5 linked regions of the Homo sapiens genome follow. The protein of the gene in region 1 purifies or fractionates together with the protein of each later gene. This does not show direct contact. Each region holds a gene or a part of one and is shown in the gene's direction. Other genes may lie near its edges. The genes, in order: ZNF154, SERPINA12, PLBD1, AMY1C and IL36G.

Region 1 (7,236 bases):
GGCAGTGGGAGTTACAATGTGCTGCTTAAACTCTGAAATTTTTTCGTGTCTTTACAGCTGGCTTTTACCTGGCATAAATGGCTAGGTTGGCTTGGGTCATGCAGCCAGAGGGACATAAAAGTCCCTATTGGAAATTTCTGTTATTAATTCTTCTGAAATCAAGCTCCATCCCATATATATTAGTGGCACAGTCCAGAGATGAAGCATGTCCACTTGTGAATAAGAATCCTGAGGGTCATGGGTCCAGATCTTTCTGAGCCCTGATGCCTGTTCTGTCTTTCTCTAGCTGTACTGTATGCTTTATATTTAAATAAAAGCCTTATGAGAGAGTGCTTTCAGTCCCATGAGTCATTTCAAATATCTGAATTTTTCAAGTCTTTGCAGATGTAAATATAGATGTAGAAATAAATTTGTATAGAAATGTGTGCAAGTGGCCGGGCACGGTGGCTCACGCCTGTAATCCCAGCACTTTGGGAAGCCGAGGCGGGCGGATCACGAGGTCAGGAGATCGAGACCATCCTGGCTAACACGGTGAAACTCTGTCTCTACTAAAAATATACAAAAAATTAGCCGGGCGTGGTGGCAGGCGCCCGTAGTCCCAGCTACTCAGGAGCCTGAGGCAGGAGAATGGCGTGAACCTCGGAGGCTGAGCTTGCAGTGAGCCGAGATCGTGCCACTGCACTCCAGCCTGGGCGACAGAGCAAGACTCTGTCTCAAAAAAAAAAAAAAAAATGTGTGCGTGCATGTGTATGTATCTGCTTTCTCTCCAAGAGGACCTAATAATCAATGATTTACCAGTAGAAAAGAGCACAGCTAATGCTTACTAATATTTACAAGCATTGTTATCTATTGAAGAAAACCAGAGCTCCTTGAAAAAGAGGCTGATTCTGGGGCTGGGATAGCAAGGGTACAACATGAGCCTGAAAATATTTTTGGATTAGAAAGTAATGAAATTATCAATAATATTGACATAAAAAAGCAGAGAGCACAGCTTTAATGAGTTCCCACTGTCCAAACATCTGGGAGAATCTGAACATTAAAATAAATGTTGGGGCCGGACGCAGTGGCTCACGCCTGTAATTCCAGCACCTCGAGAGGCCGAGGTGGGTGGATCATGAGGTCAGGAGTTCAAGACTAGCCTGGCCAAGATGGTGAAACCCTGTCTCTACTAAAAATACAAAAAATTAGCTAGGCATGGTGGTGGGCAACTGTAGTCCCAGCTACTCGGGAGGCTGAGGCAGGAGAATGGCGTGAACCTGGGAGGCGGAGCTTGCAGTGAGCCGAGATCGCGCCACTGCACTCCAACCTGGGTGACAGAGCAAGATTCCATCTCAAAAAAAAAAAAAAAAAAAAAAGTACATTACCTTGCTGAGAATTAAAAAGAAAATTTTATATTCGAGTGCTATTTATTTTGCGGCTCCAAAACTTTATAACAAAGCAGCAGAGATTTCTCGGCCAGGCTCGGTGGCTCATGCCTGTAATCCCAGCACTTTGGGAAGCCGAGATGCGTGGATCACCTGAGGTCAGTGGTTCGAGACCAGCCTGGCCAACATGGTGAAACCCCGTCTCTTCTAAAAATACAAAAATTAGCTGGGTGTCATGGCGTGCGCCTGTAGTCCCAGCTACTTGGGAGGCTGAGGCAAGATAATCGCTTGAACCCAGGAGGTGGAGAGGTTGCAGTGAAACAAGACTGCGTCATTGCACTCCAGCCTGGGCAATAAGAGTGAAACTCCATCTCAAAAAAAAAGAAAAAAAAAAAAGAAGAGATTTCTCACCTATATACCCTGAGTGTCTCTGCAGCCAGCAAAGCAGATGAAGGCCTGCTGGGTTGGAGCCCTAGGCCCTCCAATGCTGAAATGCCCTGTGAAGTCTCCATCCATCCAGGCACTCTAGTAACCTGCTTCTTCTGCCTGGAATTTATTCTAAAAATACCCACATGGCTCATTTCTCACTTCCTTCAAGTGCATTTCACCGGCTTTCTGATTAAGAAGTCCCACCTCTCCCCTTTGTCTCTTATCAAAGTAGCATTTCTTTCATTGTTTTTTGAGATTGATGTTAGACTTCTAGAAGGAATATATCTCAGATATCAAGTAAGAATTATGAAATGGATAAAAGCGTTGCTCAGTGAATTGGACACAGTTATTGACTGGACACAGTAATTGGACACAATAATTGACTATGCAGGCAAAAGATGTTTTCTGTTGGAATCAGACAGAATTCTACCTTTGTACTACTGTTTCAAGGTGATCTAACATTTCTCTTCTATCTTCTAGAAGCACTATCATGCCACTATCTGAAGTAGTTTTTCACCTGTCCCTGACCAAAAGTGCACAGACTGACTTCAATGCTTCGGAGTGCATACATTTGAAATGTAATATGATAGAGGCTGGGTACGGTGGCTTACGCCTGTAATCCCAGCACTTTGAGAGGCCGAGGCGGGCAGATCACCTGGGGCCAGGAATTTGGGACCACCATAGTGAAACCCTGTCTCTACTGAAAATACAAAAAATTAGCCTGGCGTGGTGGCGCGCGCCTATAGTCCCAGCTACTTGGAAGGTTGAGGCACGAGAATCGATTAACCCGGGAGGCGGAGGTTGCAGTGATCCCAGATGGCGCCGCTGCACTCCAGCCTGGGGGACAGAGGGAAACTTTGTCTTAAAAAAAAAAAAAAAGGAATAAACTTATATGGTAATGTTTATTAGCTTCCCTACTAGTGGATATATTTCGTGTCTGAATGGCTCTATGGAATGATGTACATATTTGGATTGGCAGCCTTAGGGAGCGTCTGATAATAATTTTAGCCTCTGGGAGCCTGCTGAACTTTATGAAGTTTGAAATAATATTCCCCAAACACTTGGGTGATCAGTTGCAGATGGCACCTCTAATATGCTGTCTGATTACGACCCATTTAAGAAAGGGCGAAGTCCCTCCACTGCCCTAGGACTTGGATAAGCCATTTCTCATCGCCCAGCGCCCTGGAGCTTCGCTTTTACTCCAAGAGGTTGGTGCAAAGGGTCCCCGGCACCCACCTCGGGATCTATGAAAACTACATTACCTAGAATGCTCTGCGTTGAACGCCACGCTACTAAGCCAGTAAGAGCTCAGAAAACCGACTTTCCTTGAGAGTCACAAAAAGAAAGGACGGGACTTTTGGGGGGGCCTCTTCGTGGCGGCCATTTTAGCTTCTCTGAGGTGTGTTCACCGGATCAGAGATAGCAGAGCGCCGAGTTGGGGCCACGAAGGCGTGAGGGGAGTCGTCGTCCCTCCTGCACGAAAGCGTCTAAGCCTTGGCGACGCCGCCCTGGGGGACCCACGTCAGGCCTGGGATAGGGACCGCTGTCCCCGGGTCCCTACCAATGTCGCCCGTCGCTCCCGGCCCAGCTCTACCCGCAGAGTCTGATGGCAGCGGCCACTCTGAGGACGCCAACTCAGGTGAGTGCGGCGTCTTCCCGTCCTCACACACCTTCCCCCACCCACGTTCTAAAGCCATCAGTGAGGGGCGCCTGCTCGAGTCCCCGCTGCCCAGGGTCGGGGACACTGAGGCGTTCGTGGGTGGGGCCCTTTTTTTGACACTGCGTGTGACGAGGTGTGGGAGAGCGTGACAGGCGGAGGAACCGGCGCGTGCAAAGGTTGAGGCGCGACTGAGCCAGGAGAATTCGGAAAGCTGTTTTCTGCAGGGAACGAAGAATATGAGGCGGAGTTACTCCTAGGGTTGTACTGTCATTGTGAGGATGCTAGAAGCCACGGAGAGTTCTGAACAAAGGAGGGACGCCATTTATGTTAGTTTTTTTTTCTTTGAGACGGAGTTTCGCTCTTATCGCCCAGGCTGGAGTGCAATGACGCGATCTCGGGTCACTGCAACCTCCGACTCCCGGGTTCAAGCGATTCTCCTGCCTCAGCCTCCCCAGCAGCTGGGATTACAAGCCTGCAGCTGGGATTACAACGTCCGGCTAATTTTTTGTATTTTTAGTAGAGACGGGATTTCACCATTTTGGCCAGACTGGTCTGGAACTCCTGACAAGTGATCCTCCTGCCTCGGCCTCCCAAAGTGCTGGGATTACAGGCGTGAGCCACCGTGCCCGCCCTATGTTAGGGTTTAAAAACTTTTCCAAAGACTGTTCACAGGAAGAGCAGCGATGGGGCGATGAGGACATTGAGATAGTGGGAGGCTACATCTTTTTTTCATTGCCCTACAGTTGGCAAGAGGTGACAGCACTGAGACCAGAAAGTAAAACAGCCAGCCTGAGTTCAGGGCCAGGCAGGGCTACAGGGAGGCTTGAGCTCATCTAGCCTCACCAGGGATGCATTCCTCTTTCCCTGGTTCTCCCAGTTGTAGAAGGGCGTATGGAACTCACATAGGGAAGTGGAGAGTGTTCGGTCCCTCAGTAGCCTCTACCCCCATGTTCTTGGGATTGTGGTTTCCTAGTATTCTTAAGTGCTGTTACCCCAATCCTGGGTCTGGTGCCCTGGAGAAATTCCAAGCCCAGGGCTCTTAAGTCCATGCCAGAGGTTACAGGGGTTATACTGAGGTGTTCCCATTTTTGTCAGCCAGTGGAAACTTGTGAAAGGTTATCTCTGGCACTGGTATCAGGAGGCGCAAGTGCTTAGTAAAACTAAGCTGAGATTTTTGAGGAAACCATAGATCTGTTTCCTTTTAGCTGGGAACAAAGAGCAGGGGGAAGGAGTCAGGACTGCAGTGGCTGCCTGAGAAGTTGGGTACCTATTCTGGAGGTAATGAGAGATTTGGGTTACAAGAGGGAGGTGATCTTACCAAAGTCCTAACAGGGTCCATCCCGTTAGCGTGGAGAGCAGACTGTGGGGTTGAGGGAAGAGGAAAGAAGATCAGAGTGGAAGCTACAGCCAGTCCAGGGTAATGGACCAGAGTCATTGATTAGGAGATGTGTTGCATTCTGGATGCAAATTTTTAAAGGGAGCAACTAAATTTTCTGATGTAGACAGCGAGGGAGTGAAACAGGATTCAGCGATGACCCCATGGTTCTTCAACTGAGATGGAGAAGTTGGTATTAACAGTAATATTCACTGGAGACAACAGGAGCTTTATTTGGTCATGTAAGAGTTTGAGATGTTTCAGAGACATTAAGTAGGCATTAAGTAGGTGGCTGAACACCCAGGTCTGGAAATCTGGGGAGTGCTTCAGAATGGAGACATCCAAAATGTGGTGGTCATTGTGTGGACTAAGGTGAGTGAGCTGTGGATTACATTTAGAAGGGTTGTTCTATTTTTTTTTTTTTTTTTTGAGATGGAGTGTCTCTCTTGTTGCCCAGGCCAGAGTGCAATGGCGCGAGCTTGGCTCACCACAACCTCCGCCTCCCGGCTTCAAGCAATTCTCCTGCCTCAGCCTCCCGAGTAGCTGGGATTACAGGCATGCGCCACCACGCCCGGCTAATTTTGTATTTATTTAGTAGAGACAGGGTTTCTCCATGTTGGTCAGGCTAGTCTTGAACTCCCAACCTCAGGTGATCCACCCGCCTCAGCCACCCAGAGTTCTGGGATTACAGGCGTAAGCCACCGCATCCGGCCTACAAGGGTTAATCTTTAGGCATGGTGGTACAGGTTATTTGGCCAGGAAGGGCAGAATGGGGGCTAAGGACCAAGCCTTTTGGTTGGATAAGTGGGTGATATTCTTGGGCTTTCTAAACAGAGGTAAGGGAGGTTAGTGGCTATGGAGGTAGGGTGTTTGGAGAGGATAGTTGGGCAGGTGGCATACACTTTCAAGGGAAGAGTGGATATAAGGTGGATGCAGAGGCATAGGTGTATTTGAGGCAAATGGCTGTCCTTTTTTTCCTTTGTGCTTATTCAGCACTCTGTGGAATCACCAGGATTTTTTGATGACTTTGATGGGGCCTAGGGTGTTTATTCAACCTGGAGGATAAGGCCAGGTGCCAATGTGGTCATCTGTGACAGTCACTTGGCCTGGGGTAGGTGATCAGTGGAGCTAGTCTTTGAGTGTTAAGTGGACAGAGGAAGGTTGTTACTGCTGAGGGGCTAGCAAGTGCAGCACGGAAGTGGAATAGGGCCATGGGTATCTGAGATGCACATGTGGTTCTGTGTGGCCTAAATCTGAGGCAAAGAATGGAGCCAGCCAGGGAGCCCTCATAGGATTTGGGGCTGCTACCACTAGTGGATGCCCTGGGAGATCTAGGGTAGTATTAGATCCGTTTGAATCTGTCGAGCATACTCTGGACGCTGTGTGCTAAGTTATGGTGTAAAGTCTAAAATTAAGGCCCAGTATGACATCTGGTGAAATCAGGGTGGCATCAAATGGCCTGAGTACAAGTTTCCCTCCCTACTCTTCTCCCAAACAGACAACCCTTTTAATCAAGGAGACCAGGCACAATTTCTGCCTATCACTTTGTAGCAGATTTCAGCTCCCTACCAGGTCATGGAGTTTTCCAAACAAGCCCATTGTGGGAACCAGGGGGCAGTTGATCCTTTTGTTCTCAAAGTGCTTGCATCCCACAGTTTTTGGTTATTCACTTTTTTTCTGGACTAGACCCCCATGTGACCCTGTGTGGTACATGTTGTCCTCATCTCCCAGGTTCTATGTACATATGATTAATAAACTGCTATATCATCTTTCTTTTTTTTTTTTTTTTGAGACGGAGTCTCGCTCTGTCGCCCAGACTGGAGTGCAGTTTCGCAATCTTGGCTCACTGCAACCTCCGCCTCCTGGGTTCAAGCAATTCTCCTGCCTCAGCCTCCTGAGTAGCTGGGATTACAGGTGTGCTTCACCACGCCCGGCTAATTTTTGTATTTTTAGTAGAGATGGGGTTTCGCCATATTGGTCAGGCTGGTCTTGAACTCCTGACCTCGTGATCCACCCGTCTTGGCCTCCCAAAGTGCTGGGATTACAGGCATGAGCCACCATACCCAACTGCTGTATCGTCTTTCTAGTGTCAGGTATTGTGTGTTTGTCCATATCCATAACCCTAGTGTGGCAATCCTGCCTTCGCTAATGGGGTAAAGAGGAAGAGATTAAAACAGTGACATGGGAGGTAAGAGCAGGGAGATGCCTATGGTGTGGGCAGTGAGGTGGCAGCCCTGGGCTTGGGGCTGTGGTGTCTGGAGATAGGAGGGATGTGTATTCTGAAGAATGATGTGCATCTGGAAAGGGAGTAAGTGACAGCTGCAGGGCCCTGGTATTGAGACTTAGATGACCTTGGACATTTCAGGGGGATTTCATGATGGGATAGTATGGATCCTTCCATGCCAGGC
Region 2 (3,500 bases), on another chromosome or scaffold:
AAATCAATAAGCTTTTTAGGCCAACATGCTTTTAGCATCTCTCTGCAGAATTAGGGCTGGAGATTAAGGGAAAACGTAGCTAAAAGTCTTGTCTCCCAGAAGCTCACAGTGGCCGTTGGAAGATGTCAAAGCTGAGAGGTGGATGAAAGGAGCAGCAGTCCAGAGCCAGGCAGACCTGGCTGTTCCTCTCCCATGGTGCCATCCTCTTCCCTCCCTGGGAAGGGTGTAGGGAAGAAGGTTTCCTGGAGATCTAAGTCCTCCTGGAATGAGTATCCACCACCTAGAGAACATATGAGCTTAAACAAAGAGCTTGATCTCTGTAAATTAGTCATAATTCTTTTGGCTGAAGGGGAAAAATTTACCTCAAACCAGCCAACTCTAAAAGGGAAATTTATTGGCTTTCATAACTTGGAAACATGGAAGTGGGTAGCAAACTGAGTTAAAGGTTAGTCCAGGGTCTCCAAAGATGTCATCAGATGTGTCAGTCCATTTCTGTCTTTCCACCTCCCTCTATCACTCTCCTCTCCTTCTACATGTGGAAACCATGGCCACATTCAGCTCCAGGGCTACTTCACAAAGCTAGCTGCCCCAAAGCTTAGGGGGTTTTGCATTCCCTTAGAAAGACACTGAGAGGTCTGATTTTGGTCCACACTCTCATCTTTAACCAGCCAGTGTGGCAAAGGAATGAAGTATTATGATGGTAGGTCTGGGCCATATGCCTACACTACGGGGTATCCTCACTGTGGTCCAATGGAGGGAAGGAGAGCTGTTCCTCAAAGGAATTGAGACACTGTTTCCATAAAGAGGGTACAAAAACAAGAGTTGTCTTCTACATTCAGTCCTCCTATTTACAAAGTGTAGAAGTCATTTCTAGTCCCCAGGGTGATTATAAAGTTTAAATGCTATAAAGGGGTCAAAGCACTCATAAACTGCTATGTACAACACATAATAGTCACTGTATTTCTTCTTTCATCTGGTCTTCCTCTGGGTAACATGTAGGCAATGGGGTTATCATGTTCTTTTTTTCTGCTGACCTCAGGTCTACTACTCAACAGGATATTCTTCAAGGAAAATGAACCCCACACTAGGCCTGGCCATTTTTCTGGCTGTTCTCCTCACGGTGAAAGGTCTTCTAAAGCCGAGCTTCTCACCAAGGAATTATAAAGCTTTGAGCGAGGTCCAAGGATGGAAGCAAAGGATGGCAGCCAAGGAGCTTGCAAGGCAGAACATGGACTTAGGCTTTAAGCTGCTCAAGAAGCTGGCCTTTTACAACCCTGGCAGGAACATCTTCCTATCCCCCTTGAGCATCTCTACAGCTTTCTCCATGCTGTGCCTGGGTGCCCAGGACAGCACCCTGGACGAGATCAAGCAGGGGTTCAACTTCAGAAAGATGCCAGAAAAAGATCTTCATGAGGGCTTCCATTACATCATCCACGAGCTGACCCAGAAGACCCAGGACCTCAAACTGAGCATTGGGAACACGCTGTTCATTGACCAGAGGCTGCAGCCACAGCGTAAGTTTTTGGAAGATGCCAAGAACTTTTACAGTGCCGAAACCATCCTTACCAACTTTCAGAATTTGGAAATGGCTCAGAAGCAGATCAATGACTTTATCAGTCAAAAAACCCATGGGAAAATTAACAACCTGATCGAGAATATAGACCCCGGCACTGTGATGCTTCTTGCAAATTATATTTTCTTTCGAGGTAAGGCTTTTGGCATGTTGGTGTGGAAAGAATAGGATGACCACTAGACTTGGGTTAAAAACCTGGGTTGGCCACTTGTTTACTCTGTGACCTTGAATTCATATGTGATTTATCTCTCAAAACCTCACTTTTCCTATCTGTAAAATGGTTACCATGATACATAACTCATACAGTTATTGAGATTTAAAGTGAAAATGTATGTGAAATGAGCTTTATGAAGTCTATCATTTTCATTATTGGTGATTATCCTAACACAACATTGGTTATAGAGGTTGGAATGACATTTTGTTCCCATCACTTAGATGAGAAAAAAAAATCAGAGTGAGATTAACTGACTTACTCCAAGTTACAAAGCCCATCATTGACAGTCAGGACTGGAACACATTTCTCCTGGCCCTAGCACTGTGTGCTTTCCAGCACTTTAAGCAGACACCTGAGATGGTGATTGTGTTGATTATGGTGATGGTGATCACTTGGTGGGTCTCCTTATGTATGTATTATATAAATTCTCCTTATCAGACTTTATATATTTCCCAGATCTGATGGAGAGAGACAGAAAAAAAAGATGGAAGAATGTTTCCAATTTCAACTTTATCCCCCAACACCACACAGAACACATGTACACAAACAGGTTGGCCAAAATAGGTGAGAATCAGAGGCCAACACCCATCAGTCCAGACAAAATCACTGCTGGAGTGTCAGGAACATGGTACTAAATATAAAAAATTGAGGGTTCTCAAAATCCACAGGCAGATTGATGGCTAAAGAAGAGTCTACTCACATCAGACTCAATTAGCCCTCATTAATTGTAATGCAGTCCCCTCTGTTAGGACATAATCAGTGGGCTTTCTCAGGCTTAGGGGAACCTGAGCTTATGGTAGTCTTCTTTTCCCCTCTTAATTTGGCAGTCTAGTCCTGGCTTCTTTGGGAACTAATAATTGCACCTGAGCCCATATCATCAGAAATCTCCAGGACATGGCATGAGGGCAAGGACTTCCCTGATATCCCGGAATATCCCCTTTCACCCTGAATCTGTGTGGAGAGAGACTACTGGTTAGTTGGATTTAGTCACCTTTTTTCCCTTGGGATAACATGTCTGTTTGTCTTTCTTCAATCTAAGCCAGGTGGAAACATGAGTTTGATCCAAATGTAACTAAAGAGGAAGATTTCTTTCTGGAGAAAAACAGTTCAGTCAAGGTGCCCATGATGTTCCGTAGTGGCATATACCAAGTTGGCTATGACGATAAGCTCTCTTGCACCATCCTGGAAATACCCTACCAGAAAAATATCACAGCCATCTTCATCCTTCCTGATGAGGGCAAGCTGAAGCACTTGGAGAAGGGATTGCAGGTGGACACTTTCTCCAGATGGAAAACATTACTGTCACGCAGGTAAAGTGGGTGCCTAGCCCTCGCAGCTTTTTCCTTCTCTTGTCTTCCCTCTTATTTCTGCTGTCTGAGCTCTTACCTCATGGCCAAGTCCTCTTCTGGGCTCTATAATAAACTTATATCATGGTGAGAATTAGACTGGGGAACAAATCATAGGAATAGAGTGAAGTGCCTGGCTCTTTGAGGGAGATTCATCAAGACTGTGAGGGCGCAGTAGATGGAGTCTTACTGGAGGGCGGTGGTCAGGGAGGACTTCATAGAGGAGATAGCATTTGAGCCAAGTCTTCAAGGGTGAGTGGCAGTCTGTATGAAAGGGTGAGGAGCAAAGGAAACTGCAAGGACAAACACGGGCTGTAAAAGAGAGCTGTGAGTTGTGAGTAGAATGATGTTGTCAACTGTGGTGTCA
Region 3 (6,804 bases), on another chromosome or scaffold:
GCTAAAACTGAAAGAGCCGGCTGGGTGTGGTGGCTCACACCTGTAATCCCAGCACTTTAAGAGGCCAAGGCAGGAGGAGCGCTTGAGCCCAGAAGTTTGAGACCAGGCTGTGCAACATAGCAAGACCCCCGTCTCTACAAAAAATTAAAAAATTTAGCCAGGTGTGGTGGTGCATGCCTGTAGCCCCAGCTACTCAGGAGGCCTGGTGGGAGGATCCTTTGATCCTGGGGGTTTGAAGCTGCCTTGAGCCTTGATCACGCCACGGCACTCCAGCCTGGGCGACAGAGCATGGCCTGTCTCAAAACACAAACACAAACAAAAAACTAAAAGAGCAGTGAACTCAAAGGATTTCCTGCCATGCCAGGTGGGTGGAGCTTCTATGTGGGAATAAAAGATGGAACCTATTTAAAGGACTTTTTTTTTGTTTGAGATGGCGTCTCACTCTGTCGCCCATGCTGGAGTGGAATGGCGTGATCTCAGCTCACTGCAACCTCTGCCTCCCAGGTTCAAGCGATTCTTGTGTCTCAGCCTCCCAAGTAGCTGGGACCACAGGCGTATGCCACCATGCCCTGCTAATTTTTGTATTTTTAGTAGAGACAGGGTTTCTCCATGCTGGCCAGGCTAATCTCGAACTCCTGAACTCAGGTGATCCGCCCTCCTCTGCCTGCCAAAGTACTGGGATTACAGGCATAAGCCACCTTGCCTGGCCTCAAAGGACTTTTAATTGAGGATCCCAGTAATGATGATCCCCATAAGGCTGAGGCTTCAAGCTTAATGATCTATAAGTGAGGCTTTCTGGGATGCATTTAGTGTGTTTCCCCAAGCGTGTGTGTGTTCCTACTTCTCATTATATACAGGTATGCTATCACCTCCCCCATACATGTATACATACCTCTTAAACTTAGATGTTCCCCAATTTTTCCTATGGAGCTTGCTAAAAATGCAGTGTCATCCATAGAAATTCATATTTCATTGATCTGGGCTGGGACATTTGTAACAAGCACCCTAGACCATCCTAGCATACTGAATCCATAGTCCATCCTGTTTGTGAGACTATGGCAGCCCTTGTGGTCTAAGCAGCAAAATCTTTGCTTAGCCTTTTTTGTTGTTGTTGTTTGTTTGTTTTTGTTTTTGTTTGAGATGGAGTGTCGCTCTGTCACCGAGGCTAGAGTGCAATGGCGCGATCTCGGCTCACTGCAGCCTCCGCCTCCTGGGTTCAAGCGAATCCCCTACCTCAGCCTCCTGAGTAACTGGGATTACAGGCGCGCGCCACCGTGCCCAGCTAATTTTTGTATTTTTAGTAGAGACGGGGTTTCACCATGTTGGTCAGGCTGGTCTCAAACTCCTGACCTTGTGATCCACCTGCCTCAGCCTCCCAAAGTGCTGGGATTACAGGCGTGAGCCACCGTGCCCGGCCTTGTTTTTTTTTGAGATGGAGTCTCGCTCTGTTGCCCAGGCTGGAGTGCAGTGGCCAATTCAACCTCTGCCTCCTGGGTTCAGGCAATTCTTGTGCCTCAGCCTCCCAAGTAGCTGGGACTACACCACGCCCGGCTAATTTTTTTTTTTTTGTATTTTTAGTAGAGATGGGGTTTCACCATGTTGGTCAGGCTGGTCTCAAACTCCTGACCTCAAATGATTCACCACCCACCTCGGTCTCCCAAAGTGCTGGGATTACAGGCATGAGCCAGCTTGGCCTTTTTAAATATTAAGTGCATGTACTTGAAAGTAGGTACACATGAAGATAAAAGAATAGGCTCCAGGAAAATTTAAGTCAAGTCTTCATAATCTATAAAATTGCCTATTTAATAAATATATGTTGTAAACATTTTTAATGTTCTGTAATTACTGTTATTAATGTCATGTTACCTCTTTGATCTAGGTACTTTGGTCATAAAGCTGAAGTATATAAAAACAATCTATATTTAGTACAGACCAAAATTCATGTCCTTTGCTTTTAAAAGGTAGAACCAAGAAAAAAAAAGCAATAGCAGAATACGGGCACGTATTCTAAAGAATTATAAATGGATTTTGCAGCACTTAATTTCTGTTTTTTTTTTAAGTACCTTTCTTTGATTCTTTGTCTCCTCATTGGTACCATCCCAGAACACTGATGTCTTCTGCCAGATCAGACCTGTCTTGATCATCTTCCCCACCTAAATCAGGATGTGTCCTCCCTTCTACCTTTCCAGAAATCCCACCTTAGTTTTCATACTTTTCTTGATTAACTGGTCATAAGATGATTTCCCTCAACTCCACCCTGTCTCAACATGCAACTCCCCATGAGTCAATCTTCATAATTGTTTCTAATGTGTTTGTTCCATGGTGTGTGTTGAGTAACTGTTGTTGCCATTTGCATGACTACATAGTGGTTACTGTTTATTTCTGCAGTTTGGTGTTTTTTTTAAGTCTTGAAATAGGATTTATTAACCGGAAGTGTTTCTTTTTATTTCTTAATTAAATTCAGTGAGAAGCTTATCATGAAATGTTATTCTTAGGCTGGCATTCATAAAACACTGGAGTGTTTCATTTTCTCCTGATCTCAATCTGCCTTCCAAAGCTGCTAATGACAGATGAGAGCAAGATTATAATTTTAGTTAGGGTGTGGTGGCTCATACCTGTAATCCCAGCACTTTGGGAGGCCAAGGCTGGAGGATCCCTTGAACTCTAAAGCTCGACACCAGCCTGGGCAACACAGGGAGACCCTGTCTCAAAAAAAAAAAAAATTTAAAAAGATTATAATTGTATGTAGTCAAAGAAATGTGTTTCTTTTCAAAGGCAATGTGTCAGAACTTTGTCCCATCTCTGGGCCTTTTCTTTATTATCTTAAACTCTAAACTATAGAATTAGCCTCCTCAACTATAGTTTTTGCAGGCCAGTTCACTCTCCTTGCTCTAGAACTCTGGATAGCCTATATATTTCCATCATCCTGTCTCTTTCATAAAGAATCTTGCCTTTAAATGAAAGACTACTCCTTAAACATTAGTACTTGTAATATTCAATCACCTACACATATTAAAGAACGCCTGCCCTCTTGTGTCCAGGGAGACTGCTACAGCAAGTATTGAATTAGCAAACTTGTCATTCCGGAAATACAGCATTCTACCCTACAGGGATTATCTACCAGGGAGCTTTCTCAAGGCTGCCAAGTATGGTTGTACAGTTTGAAAAATGATCCCAGCCCAAGACACGAATGCAATCCATTTTACACTCTGTCAAGCCATATATCCTTGCCCAGGTCATGTCTTTCTAGAGAGGTGACCCATTAAAATTTCATTCAAGAGTACTGTTAAACCTTGTACCACTTGGAATGTGCAACTTTCTCTAATTTACACAAAGCTCTCTATAGCTTAATGGCAGCCGTGTAGAGGCTCATTAAGAGTTAGTTGGGGCCGGGCACGGTGGCTCACGCCTGTAATCCCAGCACTTTGGGAGGCCGAGGCGGGCAGATCATGAGGTCAGGAGATCGAGACCATCCTGGCTAACATGGCGAAACCCCGTCTCTACTAAAAATGCAAAAAATTAGCAGGGCGTGGTGGCGGGCGCCTGTAGTCCCAGCTACTTGGGAGGCTGAGGCAGGAGAATGGCGTGAACCCAGGAGGTGGAATTTGCAGTGTGCCAAGATCACGCCACTGCACTCCAGCCTGGGCGACAGAGCGAGACTCCGTCTCAAAAAAAAAAAAAAAAACTAAGAGTTAGTTGGACAGTCCTCTCATCGTGTAACTTTCCTACTCAAGAAATTTCAAGAAATTAAAATCAGATTGTTAGAGCTGAATAGCTGAATGACATTAGTCCCAGGTTATCAGAAGAAGGAAATAAGGAAGAGAGAGGCAAAATAAGAACTGTCAAATTCATTAGAGGCAAGCAGGAAACTAAAATGCAGGTCTTCTGACTCCCAGTCCATGCTCTTACCTCCGGTTTCAGGTGACCCGTTTCTTTGACCCCACCTTACTTATTCCATACTAGGCTAGAATAGATGTGTAATAGCATGCATAGGGCTGGTGGGGTGATTTGAGGCAGTATGTGGACAAACATTTTTTGCACATTAGTAGAAATGTATTTGTTTTAATGTATTTCTTTGGGAAAAAACAAAAACATTAAGTCCATAGTTTCTGAGACATTATGATATATGACAAGGGTAAGTTAAGTTTGAAAAGTGAGTTAATTTGAAGAAAGATATTAAGTAGTGCATATGTTAATAGCTTGATTTAGCCATTGACAATGTATACATATATCAGAATATCATTTTGTATGCCAAAATATATACAATGTTTCCTTGTCAGATATCAAAATATCCTTTCTTTTGTATAACATAAATATATATAATTTTTACTTGTCAGTTAAAAAATAACAAAAATATTAACTAAATGATAGTTCAGATAGTACTCAGATATGGCAAAAATGATAAAAGTGGTAAAAAATCATGGTAGAAATTTGAGACCATCTCAGTCCATTCTGACTACTATGACAAAACACCTCAGACTAGGTAATTTATAAGCTATAGAAATGTTATTGCTCACAGTTCTGGAGGCTGGGAAGCCCAAGATGAAGGGACTGGAAGACTCAGTGTCTAATGAGGGTCTGTTTCTCGTAGACAGTGCCTTCTCTCTGTGACCTCACATAGTGGAAGGGGCTAGCTAGCTCCCTCGGGACTGTTTTGTAAGGGCCTTAAAACCCTTCAGCAGGATGCACCGAAGGAACTTACCACTCTGGCCCCTTCTAACCCTACCACTGAGGTCCTTTTCTGTTTAACACTGACAGTTGTTCCATTACTGTTACTGATGACAGTATATCCTCTCTTTTTATTACAGCTGTGCCTGATATTCTATCCTTTCCATACTCATCCCAGTATAAACCACAAAATAGGTCTTCAGAAAAGACTGTGGCTTCACTGATTTTCCTGTGTTGCCTCCAACATTTATAAAAAAGCATTGACCAAGAGTGTCAATGCCCTAGTTTCAAAACCATCTTTACTTTTCTAAATGTAGATGTTTTTCCATTTATAAAAATTATGTAGACTTAGCCGGGTGTGGTGGCCCACACCTGTAATCCCAGCACTTTAGAGGCTAAGGTGGGTGAATCACTTGAGGTCAGGAGTTTGAGACCAGCCTGGCCAACACGGTGAAACCCGGTCTCTACTAAAAATACAAAAATTAGCCAGGTGTGGTGGTGCACACCTGTAACCCCAGCTACTCAGGAGGCTGAGGCACAAGAATTGCTTGAACCCAGGAGGCAAGGTTGCAGTGAGCTGAGATCATGCCACCACACTGCAGCCTGGGTGACAGAGTCAGACTGTGTGTCAAAAAAAAAAAAAAAGTAGACTTATACAAAATTTGAAAAATACAGGAAAGTAGAAAAGAAGAAAAAAAGGCATTTATATTCTTACTAATGAACCCTGCTAATCCCCTCCCTAATTAAAAATTCTCCTGCAAAATCCTAGCAAGTCGGGATCTACATCTGTTTATCATTCTGGAAGCTTGCAATGTTCTGGATTTAACATATTTTTGTTATTTCAAATCACAAAATAAATTTTCAATGGAGAATCCAGGGGTGGAGTTCTTTTGGCACCTCTATAAGGGGCAGTTGGGTGACTACCACAGAGGTGAGCCAAAGCTGGGGGAGGCTACTGCAGATCAAGGATAGTAATAACTGATACACTTTGCAAAATGCATTGTGTATGTAAAGCTCTTTGTCAATAATGATGGTTCACTGTTCCATGTATACATATGCTGATGTGTATATTTGTCTTTCCTGTAGGGTTTTTGGAGTCTCTGGATGATTTTTACATTCTTAGCAGTGGATTGATATTGCTGCAGACCACAAACAGTGTGTTTAATAAAACCCTGCTAAAGCAGGTAATACCCGAGACTCTCCTGTCCTGGCAAAGAGTCCGTGTGGCCAATATGATGGCAGATAGTGGCAAGAGGTGGGCAGACATCTTTTCAAAATACAACTCTGGTAAGTGACCCTGCAGAATAACTGTTAGGCACAGACATATATTTTGATTTAGGCTTGTTAACCAGTAAAGTCATACCCATGCCCCGTCTTCATGTTTCCTGATATTTCAGGCACCTATAACAATCAATACATGGTTCTGGACCTGAAGAAAGTAAAGCTGAACCACAGTCTTGACAAAGGCACTCTGTACATTGTGGAGCAAATTCCTACATATGTAGAATATTCTGAACAAACTGATGTTCTACGGAAAGGTACTTTCTTCATGTCGTAAGTCTTAAAACCTGATGAGTATGTGTGTGTTCATATATGGTAGGGGAATGCACATTGTGTGAATGTGTGGTGGGGGAGGGTATGGTGGGGAAGACAGGATGGGGATGCTATATTACACCAGAATGACCAGGTTTAGCACAACATGTAAACCTACATCTCAAACTCTTATAGGACAATGTGCAGATTGGGACGCAAATCAGGCATTCATGACTCTATGATTTCTCATAGTTCTAATGTTACCTTTTCTCCTGTGTTCCTGGTTAAAGCTTTAAGTTCAATTCAGCAAATATTTTTGGAGTGCCACTGTGGCCCAGGGACTAGAAAAGCAAGGATACAGAATCCCTGACCTGGAAGGACTCAGGAGTCTAGTAGGGAAGCAAAGCACTCAAAGCAGCTGCAGGAACTCAGGATGGGAAGAGCTGTCATCAGGTCTCATGTCCCTAGGCCAGTGGTGAACCTAAACAGAACGTGGCTGTTAGTGGGTGGAGTCAGAGAAGGCACTTCTGGTGGGCAAGAAGGAGTCCAGACATTTGAAGCCAGGAGGCTCACTGCCTTGATTCAAATCTCAGTTCCTTAAAA
Region 4 (6,452 bases), on another chromosome or scaffold:
CTCTAAATGATAATGTGCTGAAACCTCTGAAAGGAAATTTTTTAATAACAAACATTTTATATTTGTAATATGAATATAAGTATTCCATACATGTATATACAAATATGGACTATATATATGTAGATTACACACGTGTGTTTGTTTATGAGGTGTGTGTGTATATATATGTGAGTGTGTGTTTGTGTGTGTGTGTGTATATATATATATCTTACAGAGTAACCATCTAATTAGAGAAAGAATTTAATCTTCAGATGCCATGCCTTACAGAAAGAGATGCACAGTAGAGTTACTCTCAAACTATTGTGAAATGATACATCAACGTATATCTTATGTTTCAAAAATAGGAACTGGGGAGAAGGTTGGGGTTTCATGCCTTCTGACAGAGCGCTTGTCTTTGTGGATAACCATGACAATCAACGAGGACATGGCGCTGGAGGAGCCTCTATACTTACCTTCTGGGATGCTAGGTAGAAAACCAAGTTCTCTATTTTTTAACACCTCTTTTAATGATGGTATGAATATTGTGATATTCTATGATAATATAATTATGTAACTTTCAGGCTGTACAAAATGGCAGTTGGATTTATGCTTGCTCATCCTTATGGATTTACACGAGTAATGTCAAGCTACCGTTGGCCAAGATATTTTGAAAATGGAAAAGTAAGTTTTGGAGTTGTTCAAAATATCCTTTTCTCAAGAAAAAAGAGGCAATCTTCTCCTAATTTAATATGACAACTATTAAGTGTTTATTTATTCAACAAATATTTAATTATTGTAAACCTGATACAGGGTTGTGATTTAGTAATGCAGGTTATATTAAAGGAATAAACTTTATATTCTCCATTGAAAAAGAATAGCAAGCTTTTTCAGAGATATGACAAACATCCCCCTAGCCCGCAGGGAAAATAAAAATAAAAATTAAAAAAACCACTTAAAAATAAGAGCTAGGCACAGGGATTAAAATATATACTTCGTACCTTCCTCAGGTTTAATTGGAAGAATATAGATGCCAACCCTTGTAGAGAACTTAAAACATCATCTGCCCGTAGTGAGAACAATATAAATGTCTTTTAAATACTGTTAAAAAGTTATATGGTATAGAAACAAATGATCCAGTTCAGCTGAGTTAAATAGGGAAAGTATACTATAAGAGGAAGGAAATTGTATGTACTAAAGGATAGAAATTTATAGAGAGTATTCCAAGAAAGGTAAGAATGAGAAAAATATTTGGGAGTATGGTAAAGACATCACTCTGCTGAGTAGTTTCAAAAAGGAACAGAGAAATAAGAGTGTAAAGATATTTGGAAAGCTAGTAGAAGGTTTTCTTTTAAACTAAAGGGTTGAGAAACAGCATCAGAGACTTCAGAACTAAAGCAGAAATTCCTCCTTCCTATGAGTCACACAGATATCTAGCTAGCTTTTTTTAGATTCCTTTCAGTTTGAGAAGTCCGCTACTATGTATAACAACTGATTCTATTGTTAAACAGCTTTAATATTTAGAAGGTGTACTTTTATATTGAGACAACTTCTTATAATTTCTACTAATTGGTCTTATTTCTGTTGTTAGGAGTCAGAGAGTTCTTTTATTTTTTCTATTACTATAACATTCCCACTTTGACAGGACTGCTGCATGCTATAAACTCTTAAGTTTTGTTCACTTTTCACCATATGACGTGATTTTAAGGTGAACACTGATAAACTTCCTAGGGTTACTCTGTGTTTTTTAATGAAGATTTCTTAAAGTGCCAATCAGAAAAGCATAATACTAAAAATATGGTCAATTTATAAAAAAAAATGTTCAGATGTAGTATTTTGTACATTTATCTAAAAAGAAGCATGACGGCCTCCAATATTTATTTAGCATATGTCATGTTCAAGGCATTTTCACATATATTACTTAATTTTTATAGCAAAAGAACTCATTATTCTCATTTTACAAATGAGGAAACTGAGACACAGAGAAATTATTTATATTGATTAAATTTTCTCAGCTACTAGTAATAGAGCCTATGTTTTAATCCTGGTGTTTCTAGTACTAATGCCCTTCCCATTTCAATGCCATTGCATGGCTTACAGTGATGTTAAGAAGCCCTTGCAGGCCAGGTGCAGTGGCTCACACCTATAATCCCAGCACTGTGTGCGGCCAGCTGAGAAGGTCAGCTGACCTGAGGAGTTCAAGACCTATCTGGGCAAGCTAGCAAGACCTTGCCTCTACTGAAAATTAAAAAAAAAAAAAAAATTAGCTGGGTGCGGTGGTGCACACCAACAGTCTTAGCTACTTGGGAGGCTGAGATGGGAGGTTCGCTTGAGCCTCGGAGATCAAGGCTGCAGTGAGCTACGATCATGCCACTGTACTCCAGCCTGGGTGACAGAGCAAAGAAGTCTTTGCAGTGCCTTGGAATGAAAAGGAGAGGATAACAATTTGCTACCTTTGTTTGAAATATGGCAAAAGAGAACCAGAGGATAGAGAGATGATGAAGACCCAGTAAAGGGCTATAAAAATCAATGAAGGCATTGGATTCTAGATAAAGTCACTGAATGCAGAGACACAAGTAACAGGATAGGTTGGGTTTGGTTTAAAGGAGAAGGAAGAGATAAATATATATATGCTAAAATTTGGCTTTTCCTCCTGTAATTAAGGATGTTAATGATTGGGTTGGGCCACCAAATGATAATGGAGTAACTAAAGAAGTTACTATTAATCCAGACACTACTTGTGGCAATGACTGGGTCTGTGAACATCGATGGCGCCAAATAAGGTGAGAATATGTATTTAGACATGTCCTCTAATAGTAAATTTCCGTAGCACTTTATTTAAAACAGTTGAAGTTTAAGAATATCAACGTTTTATATGGTATTGTGTTTTTAGGAACATGGTTAATTTCCGCAATGTAGTGGATGGCCAGCCTTTTACAAACTGGTATGATAATGGGAGCAACCAAGTGGCTTTTGGGAGAGGAAACAGAGGATTCATTGTTTTCAACAATGATGACTGGTAAGTAAATATCAATTAAAAATAATATTTTGTACCAGTATGTTCTTGGTTTATTCTTTTTTTTTTCTGTTCATTGACATTTATCATATCTGAAAAATCATGTAGTCAGTGGAGCGAGAAGACAATAGAGATCAAAATTGGGTAGAAGCAAAAGGATGATGGCTGTTACTCCTTCGTTCTCCTGTTTTCATAAGGGCTTTCTGTTGTAAGCAGAATCCTTTCTGTGCACCCTTGCAATATCTTATGCATATATAGAATGCACATTCATATGCTTACCTACACATGCCACAAAATACACAAAGTAATTAATAGAAGGATTGTGAAATCATTAAAAGAACGTTTCTTATAGTCCTGCTCTTTTAATCATGGAAAAATGCTGCCTCAGTACTAAAATATCTTTATTTCTCTTTTTCTCAATGACAGCTCTACCTAGTTTTTTGGTATACTTTCTTCACTTCTCTGTCTCCTTGTGACAAATAACATTTTTAAAGCATATGGATAAATAATATGTATCTTGTGGTTAATGATTTGCTTCAGGAGACTTGAGTTTTAGTTCTGAAACTTCTCATTATTGGCCTTTCATCTGTGATTTTTGTATCCTTTGGCTGTAGTATAAATGATTCCCGAAACTGTAGCTGAGAAGACCTCCTTGCAAACAGTTGAATTGTCTCTGTCCAAGGCCAACTGACACTCATACTTAGCTCACTCTAGTATAAATTATACTTCACTTATGAAAAATAAATAAATACAAAAATATATAAGTCAAGTTGATCTCTTTCCTGCCAAAAAAATGCGTGTCTATTTCCTTAGTTTCCTTCTTTTGTGGATGAAAATACCAAAAAAATCTTTTGTGAAAAAGCTTTATATTTCAAACTATCACTTCCTCATACAAATGCTAGATTGTTTTTATGTACACCCTAAATTCTTTTTGACCTCATGTAGAATAAAAGAAGGTTAAAAAAATAATACCCTTTAAATTTTTAAAGTAATTGGCATTAAGTTCAGTTGAGAAAAAATTTGATTTTACCAAGGTAGCACTTTATCAAAATGTGACCGCTCCCGCCAATCTTCGGTGATATTCTTCAACTTTGATTTTTCGGTTATATTTTCACTACTGAAAAGGAAATTGGTAGGTTTTCTGTAAGGTTACTTTTGGTCCTAGAAAGCTGTTTACACCTACTAGGGAGGCATATGGGTTTTCTTCTTAATGAGACTTCACTGCTTAGGGTTCTAAAACATAAAGTTATGCTGTTTATTTGTGTTAGTCTGTATTCTTGATTTCATTGTTTTGAAGTTAAATCTGAAATTTTATTTTACAGGACATTTTCTTTAACTTTGCAAACTGGTCTTCCTGCTGGCACATACTGTGATGTCATTTCTGGAGATAAAATTAATGGCAACTGCACAGGCATTAAAATCTACGTTTCTGATGATGGCAAAGCTCATTTTTCTATTAGTAACTCTGCTGAAGATCCATTTATTGCAATTCATGCTGAATCTAAATTGTAAAATTTAAAATTAAATGCAAATCCGCAAAGCAATAGCTAAGTGTGTTTCTTTTCTTACATATACAGTAATAGTTACATATCATTAATTTTAAATAAAAGCTCTAATTAGTAAAAAGAGGTTTAAGACACTTGATAGTATGAAATACAATTCCAGGTTACACATAAGTTATTTATTTTGGCAAAAGGATGACTCAAAAATTTTAAAACTAGGCAACAATCTTTACTCATTAAGAGGTAAGACTTAGCTTTCCAAACAGTTTGTCTCCTGTCTACTCTTTTCTCTCCTTGGCATTCTACCAACAAGGCAAACCAAATATTTCATTATTCTTCTCTATTACATGAAAAATCTGTACAAGGGAAGGAAAGCCAAATTTTACCCTTACATAGGTTTCAAAAGAATCCTTTTTCCATAGGCAACATTTACATTTTTATGCCTTTTTATAATCTTTTACCACAAACACATTTAAGTGTTCCTACACACCTTGCATGTAAATTTATTTTTAGTTGTCTTATTTACATATTTTTATGGTCAATCTTAGCAATTTTTAACTTTAATGTAAACCTGGTAAGTTGTTTTAATTATGTACTAGATGCAGATAAAGTCTGACTTTTTCCATTCTAGTTAGGGCATGGTTAATTTCATATGTCCCCAGGCCTTACCAAGTTGTAAAGTAGGCAGCCTACAACCTTGAAATATTTAGCAAGCCTTTTATCTAATTTATGTGATTTAAACCTGCTATTTACATATTGATGATATTTGCATTTTCCAATTTGATCTTTAAAACAGTTTTTATTTCTTAGAGTTTAAAAACACATAAACTAAAAGGCATTACGGTTTTAACTTTCCTCTAAAATATTTGATTTAAGTGCTTATTTTTATTTAAGGCAATCAATTGGTCCTCGTTACAGACATCACACACAACACATATATTGCTACACAGACAAACAGAAGAAGATCCAGTAGCTCTAAGATTTCTTCTCGTCCCATTTCCTAATTGCATTACTGGCTTCCCAGTAGAGCCCTTTAAGAACAGGGATAGCAAACCACGAAGTTTCTAGGGCCTAATCAACTTGTATAGCTGTAAGACAAAAACAGATTTTGAGCAGGATTGATCAGCCTCTAGATTCTGGGATTCCATGAGGAAAACAGAGGTTTCTCCCAAAATGGAATCCATCATGCATTTTCTGTTTTTCCCAAAACGTTTCAGGCCACCAGAAGTTATCTTGTGTGCATTAAGAGTGGAAAGACAGAGTGGAGAACAGTAATTCAGTCAATGGAAAAGTTCTTTTCAAGAAAAACACGATCCAAGAAGACAAAAACATGCAGGTCTTTTAAATATACCTATAACTTGAATATCCACTTTTAATCAAGCTCAGCACCCTTTCAGAAAATCCTTTGACATCTTCTGTTTCCTGACTTTAGCTAAATCAAGCAGGTAATATTTCTGGCTTTTGAATTTTACCAAAGGTAACATCACAGGGGAAACTAAAAACTCTCCGTTAGGTTATAAGTTCACCGTTAGTATACAAGATATTTTATAAGTGGTGGTAAGCAGCTTTTACCAGATCTAGAACCTTTAAAGTCAGTTGAGAGAAAGGAAGATTTCAGAAAGGCAGTTAGAGTTTTTCATGGCGGAGCACGAGATGATTAAACGTCACACAGTTGTTAACTGGAAAGTATTCATCACCCAGGCTGGGATTGAACCTGGGTCACCATTGTAAAAAGGCAACGGCTGAAAAGTGGTACTACCACATGGTTACAGGTTATGCTTAAGGACATAAAACAAGTCGGAGACATGCAGCAAAGTTTGTTACTGACCAGTTTATGAGGGTGTCTTGAACAGTGAGCTCAAGGAGTCTCAGGCCTGGATTCCATTCCAAGGTACCCTCTGTCTGACTTTTTCTTCTATTTTCTCTCCTTTTCCTGAGCCTCCTCCTAGTATGTCTTA
Region 5 (5,881 bases), on another chromosome or scaffold:
AGGTGAGATGTTAGCAGGGAGTAGAAAGAGCTAGGGAAGTTAGTTAGCAGGTGTCTAGTGAGGGCACGTCCCAGGACCAGTGAGGACCGGTGTGCAGGAGTGAATTGAGGAATGAGTCCAGAGAGATAAAGGCAGACATGAAAGTCTTGTCCTTTGCAAGGACTCAGCCTTGCAATCTGAGTGAAATGGGAAATATTAGAATGTTTTGAACAGAGGAATGGCGTGAAGGGGCTTAGGTCTAAAAAGGATCTCTCTGGAGATCTTAGACTGTGGCGGGCAAAGGTGAAAGTCCTTCAGGAGACTTTGAGGTGGTCTAGGTGTGATTTGATGGGCCAGGAGATAGCAGCAGAGGTGGGGAGCAGTGAGTCAGATTCTGGTAGTATTTTAAGTGGAGGAAACAGGATTGTGAGTGTGATCAATAAAGTCAGGACTGAGAATGACATTTGCTACTTTGTCCTGTCAGCTAAGTCACCCTTATGTTGTGCGTTTGTTCTCAGATGGGGACTAAGAATTGACTGTTGCGTTTGGCAATGTGTGGGTCTTTGGGGACCTTGGCAGGAGCAGTGTTGGTGCTGTAGTGGGGGCAAAAGCCTGGATGGAGTAAGTTTAAAGGGAGGAATTACAAGAAAGGGATCAGAGACAGCAGATATGGACAGCGATTGCAGGAAGTTTTCTGCAAAGTGGAACTGGTGGCGGTGGTGGGTAAGCAAAGTAGTTATTTTGTTTAAGATGGTAGAAATGACAGCAAATATGCTGATGGGAATGACTAAGAAGAGCAAGCAAAATTGATGGAGCACAAGAGAGCAGGGAGAACGGCTAGAGGGATGTCCTTAAGTTGCAAGTGCAGATAGGACCTTTCACCCAGTCCTCCTCAAGCAGGGAGGTGCAGATATGGGTGCCATGTGCTGGGAGCCCATGTTATGGTGTGGTTTGTACAAGTTGTCTTCTAATTACTTCAATTTTCTCAGTGGGTAGGAAGTTGAAGGTGATGATGGAGGAGGTATGGGAGTTTCAAAGGAGGAAGCATTCTTCCATTTATTAAACAGCAAATCTCTGTTGAGTAGAATGCTGGGGGCTTTCCTCTGTGTTGAGGAATACAGTGATGAACAAGTCTAACAATCATTCTGGGATTGATGAATAAATACGCTAAGTTTAGATAGCAGTTGGTACTAATGAAGAAAATAACTCAGGAATATGATCGCAATGAGTAGGAGGGAGGATTCCAAACCGATTTTGGCTGGGATGGAATGTTCAGTAAAGTTCTCCCCAAGGAGGAGACCCAGGTGATGGGGAGCAGCTGGCCTTGGGAAGATGTGGGGCTGGTGTGAGGTGCAGGGAGAGTAAGTGCCAGGACCTTGGGTGGGAACAGCTTGGTGTCTTGGAAGGCAAAGAAGAAGACAGGTTGGTGGGGGCAGAATGAGCATGCAGGAGAGTGGTAAGAAGGCAGGGCAGCAGGTAGGCAGGAGCTGGGTGGCGTAGACCCTGTGGGCTTTGCCGAGGAGTTTCACTGTAATAACAATAGAAAATCATGCAAAAGGGTATCATAATCTTATTTATTTACTTCAGTTTAAAGTTCACTTACCTGCCTTATGGAGAATGATTATTAGAGAATAGAGTAGGTTCAAGGAGAACATTTAGAAGGTCACCCTAATTGTCCAGGTGAGAGAGTGATGGCCTGGATTGGGGTTGATGCCATGTGTGGAGTGCAAGAAGTGACTCGATTCAGGAAATATTTTGGTATTTTGGAAATAGAGTCCACAGGCCTTGCTCCTGGGTTAGATGTTAGGGGATCAAAAAAAGAAATGTCAATAATGACTCCTAGGTTTCTGGCCACCCAAAGAATCAGATTAACTGGAAGCCATTAATTGAGTAAAGGAATCCTGTGGGAGAAGAACTTCTCACTCAGGGTGGAATGTGGCTGAATTACAGATCATTTCTGTGTCTCTCTTGAGATCTTGAACACTTGCAATTTACTTAGAAATACTTATTTTACCTAAATATACAATGCATGTACATACAAATATATAGACATACAGAATATAGTTCCATATACAATATAGAAGGCATTTTTTGATTGCTCTATTTACCTTCTTCCTTTGATACAAATCCTTTGATTTGTTAGACCCTCTTGGGTCTTTTTCATTGGTATTTATCTTTCTCATATATGTGGCAATTAGTCAGAAATTCATACCCTAACCTGGCTGTCCTTTGTCACGCCGGTGGTTCTTGCAGGGTAGTGACTCTCACTGTTGTGGTATTGGTAAGGGAGGTAATTTCCAATTTCTTCCTCTTCCTAAGGGTCACCTCAGCCTCTTGTGTGAGAAGAGTTCTAACTTGTTGTTCAAGTGTGGCTGCTTGTTCATTAAACTCTCCCTTGTAAACTTCCTACACCATCTCTGGATTTGAGGGTGGGGGCTTGGAAGGTAAAATTTCATGTATGTTTACTCTGCTGCTCCTTCAAAATGTGTGTTTCTCTAGGCCTGCTCTAATAGATGGATAAGGTTTTCTGGAACTTTGGAACATTTATTGAATTATTATGAATAACCTTGAATATCTCAAACAGCTTCTGTTTCTCCTAATGGGTACTTGTTCTGACATTTCAGGAGCAGAAGATCATGGATCTGTATGGCCAACCCGAGCCCGTGAAACCCTTCCTTTTCTACCGTGCCAAGACTGGTAGGACCTCCACCCTTGAGTCTGTGGCCTTCCCGGACTGGTTCATTGCCTCCTCCAAGAGAGACCAGCCCATCATTCTGACTTCAGAACTTGGGAAGTCATACAACACTGCCTTTGAATTAAATATAAATGACTGAACTCAGCCTAGAGGTGGCAGCTTGGTCTTTGTCTTAAAGTTTCTGGTTCCCAATGTGTTTTCGTCTACATTTTCTTAGTGTCATTTTCACGCTGGTGCTGAGACAGGGGCAAGGCTGCTGTTATCATCTCATTTTATAATGAAGAAGAAGCAATTACTTCATAGCAACTGAAGAACAGGATGTGGCCTCAGAAGCAGGAGAGCTGGGTGGTATAAGGCTGTCCTCTCAAGCTGGTGCTGTGTAGGCCACAAGGCATCTGCATGAGTGACTTTAAGACTCAAAGACCAAACACTGAGCTTTCTTCTAGGGGTGGGTATGAAGATGCTTCAGAGCTCATGCGCGTTACCCACGATGGCATGACTAGCACAGAGCTGATCTCTGTTTCTGTTTTGCTTTATTCCCTCTTGGGATGATATCATCCAGTCTTTATATGTTGCCAATATACCTCATTGTGTGTAATAGAACCTTCTTAGCATTAAGACCTTGTAAACAAAAATAATTCTTGTGTTAAGTTAAATCATTTTTGTCCTAATTGTAATGTGTAATCTTAAAGTTAAATAAACTTTGTGTATTTATATAATAATAAAGCTAAAACTGATATAAAATAAAGAAAGAGTAAACTGAAATTAGCAAGAGTAGTTGAATAAAGCCATTGCAGTGGGTAAACCTGGGACTGGGGCTTAGCTGGGGACAAAAGGGCCTTCCTTGGTGGATAGTGATGGGGTGGGGGTGAGAAATTCAGTATGTAACAGGGCTCTGCTGTTTGGCTCCTTTCTTTATGGTCGAATAGCCTTGGTTTTTCCCTGCTTCCTCTAGTCTTTTCCTTTTAGACCATCTCACCATTCACATACTTTTTTCAAAAACTTCAGTAAAGATGTCTTTTTTTTCTTCTTGGAAGAGAAAGCCTTGCTTTCCCAACAGCCACCTTTAGAAGATATATTCTGACGAAATTAAATAACTGACTGATATAGTTTGCATGTTTGTCCTCGTCCAAATCTCATGTTGAAATGTAATCCCCAGTGTTGAAGGTGGAGCCTGGTGGGAGGTGTTTTGGTCATGGGGGTGGATCACTTGTGGCTTGATGCTGTCCTCACCATAGTGAGTGGGTTCTCACAAGATCTGGTTGTTTAAAAGTGTGTGGCACCTCCACCCTCACTCTCTCTGTTGCTCCTGCTTTTGCCATGTGATGTACCTGCTCCCCCTTCACCCTCTGCCATGATTGGAAGCTTCCTGAGGCCTCCCTAGACGCCAAACAGATACCAATACCAAGCTTCCTGTAAAGCCTGCAGAACAGAACTGTGAGCTAATTAAACCTCTTTTCTTAATAAATTACCCAGTCTTGGCTATTTCTTTACAACCATGAAAGAACGACCTAACACACTCACTGTGGGTATAATTGTAGAAATATATACCTCAGATCTGATTCTGTATATAATAGATTTCTTTATTTTTACTCTAACACTGAAAATGCAGAACATTCTGTTTGCTTAAGTACATTCTTCAAAATAGCATAGCAACTTATTTTTTTTTCTACTTTTGGGCAATCAGACTGCATCCACTACTAACAATTACAATAAGCAATCAGCAAGCATGGATTTAATGTGATACCTCTTTATTCTTTAACTTTTTCTTTTTGGGGGGTTATTTTTAATTAAACATTTAAAAATAATTTTTAAAGCTCAATTTTTACATATCTTTTTAAATTGACAGATAACAGTGTATGTTTTTATTGGGTACCACATGATGTTTTGAAGTACATATACATTTGTGGAATGGTTAAATCTAGCTAATTAACAAATGTACTGCCTCACATGGTTATCATTTTTTGTGGTGAGAGCACGTAACATCCACTCTCTACATTTTTTGAGAGAATATATCATCATTTACTATAGTCTCCTTGCTGTAAAATAGGTCTCTTGAAAGTTATTCCTCCTACATAACTGTAATTATGTAGCCCTTGGCTAACATCCCCCCATCCCTCCTCCTGGCTAACTACACTAGCCTCTGGTAACTACCATTCTACTTTCTACCTCTATGAGATCTACTTTTTTTAAAATTTCACATATGAGTGAGATCATGTGGTATTTGTCTTTCTGTGCCTGGCTTGTTTCATTTAGCATAATGTTCTCCAGGTTCATCCATGTCGTCACAACTGGTGGGATTTCAATCCCTTTTTATGGCTAAATAGTATTCCATTATGTGTATGTACCACATTTTCTTTATCTACTCATCTGTTGATGGACACTTAGGTTGACTCAATATCTTGGCTATTGTGAATGGTGCTACAATAAACATGGGAGTGCAGATATCTCTTTGACATAAAGATTTGAATTCCTTTGCATAGTGTGATTGCTGGATCATATGGTAGTTCTATTTTTAATTTTCTGAGCTTCTATAATGTTTTTCAGAGTGGCTGCACTAATTTAAATGCCCCCCAAGGGTGTTTAAGAGCTTCCTTTTCTCCACAACATTGACAGCACTTATCTTTTGTCTTTTTGATAATGGCCATTCTAACTAGGGGAAAGTGATACGCCATTGTGATTTTGACTTGCATTTCTCTGATTAGGAATATTGAGCATTTTTTCATATATCTATTGGTCTTTCTTTTTGTGAAATGTCTATTCAGGTATTTTGCCTGTTTTTCAAACAGGTTATTTATTTATTATTATTATTATTTGCAACTGAGTTGTTTAAGTTCGCTATGTATTTTTGATATTTACCCCTTGTCAGATGTATAGTTTGAAAATATTTTCTCCCATTCTGTAAGTTGTCTCTTCACTCTGTTGATTGTTTCCTTTTCTATACAGAAGCTCTCTTGTTTGATATAGTCACACATTTGTTTATTTCTGATTTTGTTTTTTGCCTTTGATTTTGAGGTCTTATCCAAAAAATCCTTGCTCAGACAATGTTTCTCCTATGTTTTCTTCTAGTAGTTTCATAGTTTCAAGTCTTACGTTTAAGTATTTAATCCATCTTAATTTTTGTATATGGTGAGAGATGAGTCAATTTTATTTTTCTGCGTGTGGATATCCAATTTTTCTAACATCATTTATTTATTATTTTTTATA

Evidence for each region.
Region 2: the proteins of ZNF154 (region 1) and SERPINA12 purify together in Homo sapiens (affinity purification with mass spectrometry; one large-scale study listed by BioGRID and IntAct). This does not show direct contact.
Region 3: the proteins of ZNF154 (region 1) and PLBD1 purify together in Homo sapiens (affinity purification with mass spectrometry; one large-scale study listed by BioGRID and IntAct). This does not show direct contact.
Region 4: the proteins of ZNF154 (region 1) and AMY1C purify together in Homo sapiens (affinity purification with mass spectrometry, with the first as the bait; one large-scale study listed by BioGRID). This does not show direct contact.
Region 5: the proteins of ZNF154 (region 1) and IL36G purify together in Homo sapiens (affinity purification with mass spectrometry; one large-scale study listed by BioGRID and IntAct). This does not show direct contact.

The regions. Positions count from the first base shown.
Region 1 is NC_000019.10:57,705,135-57,712,370, reverse strand, and holds the start of ZNF154 (zinc finger protein 154), read left to right. Parts: upstream 1-3,166; 5' UTR 3,167-3,399; coding exon 3,400-3,432; exon of another isoform or gene 3,433-7,236. UniProt on the Homo sapiens protein: May be involved in transcriptional regulation.
Region 2 is NC_000014.9:94,495,970-94,499,469, reverse strand, and holds part of SERPINA12 (serpin A12 precursor), read left to right. Parts: intron 1-1,039; 5' UTR 1,040-1,072; coding exon 1,073-1,706; intron 1,707-2,826; coding exon 2,827-3,097; intron 3,098-3,500. UniProt on the Homo sapiens protein: Adipokine that modulates insulin action by specifically inhibiting its target protease KLK7 in white adipose tissues.
Region 3 is NC_000012.12:14,510,662-14,517,465, reverse strand, and holds part of PLBD1 (phospholipase B-like 1 precursor), read left to right. Parts: intron 1-5,754; coding exon 5,755-5,955; intron 5,956-6,065; coding exon 6,066-6,206; intron 6,207-6,804. UniProt on the Homo sapiens protein: In view of the small size of the putative binding pocket, it has been proposed that it may act as an amidase or a peptidase.
Region 4 is NC_000001.11:103,754,155-103,760,606, forward strand, and holds the end of AMY1C (alpha-amylase 1C precursor), read left to right. Parts: intron 1-344; coding exon 345-467; intron 468-560; coding exon 561-660; intron 661-2,640; coding exon 2,641-2,759; intron 2,760-2,869; coding exon 2,870-2,995; intron 2,996-4,314; coding exon 4,315-4,504; 3' UTR 4,505-4,538; downstream 4,539-6,452. UniProt on the Homo sapiens protein: Calcium-binding enzyme that initiates starch digestion in the oral cavity.
Region 5 is NC_000002.12:112,982,237-112,988,117, forward strand, and holds the end of IL36G (interleukin-36 gamma), read left to right. Parts: intron 1-2,603; coding exon 2,604-2,813; 3' UTR 2,814-3,422; downstream 3,423-5,881. UniProt on the Homo sapiens protein: Cytokine that binds to and signals through the IL1RL2/IL-36R receptor which in turn activates NF-kappa-B and MAPK signaling pathways in target cells.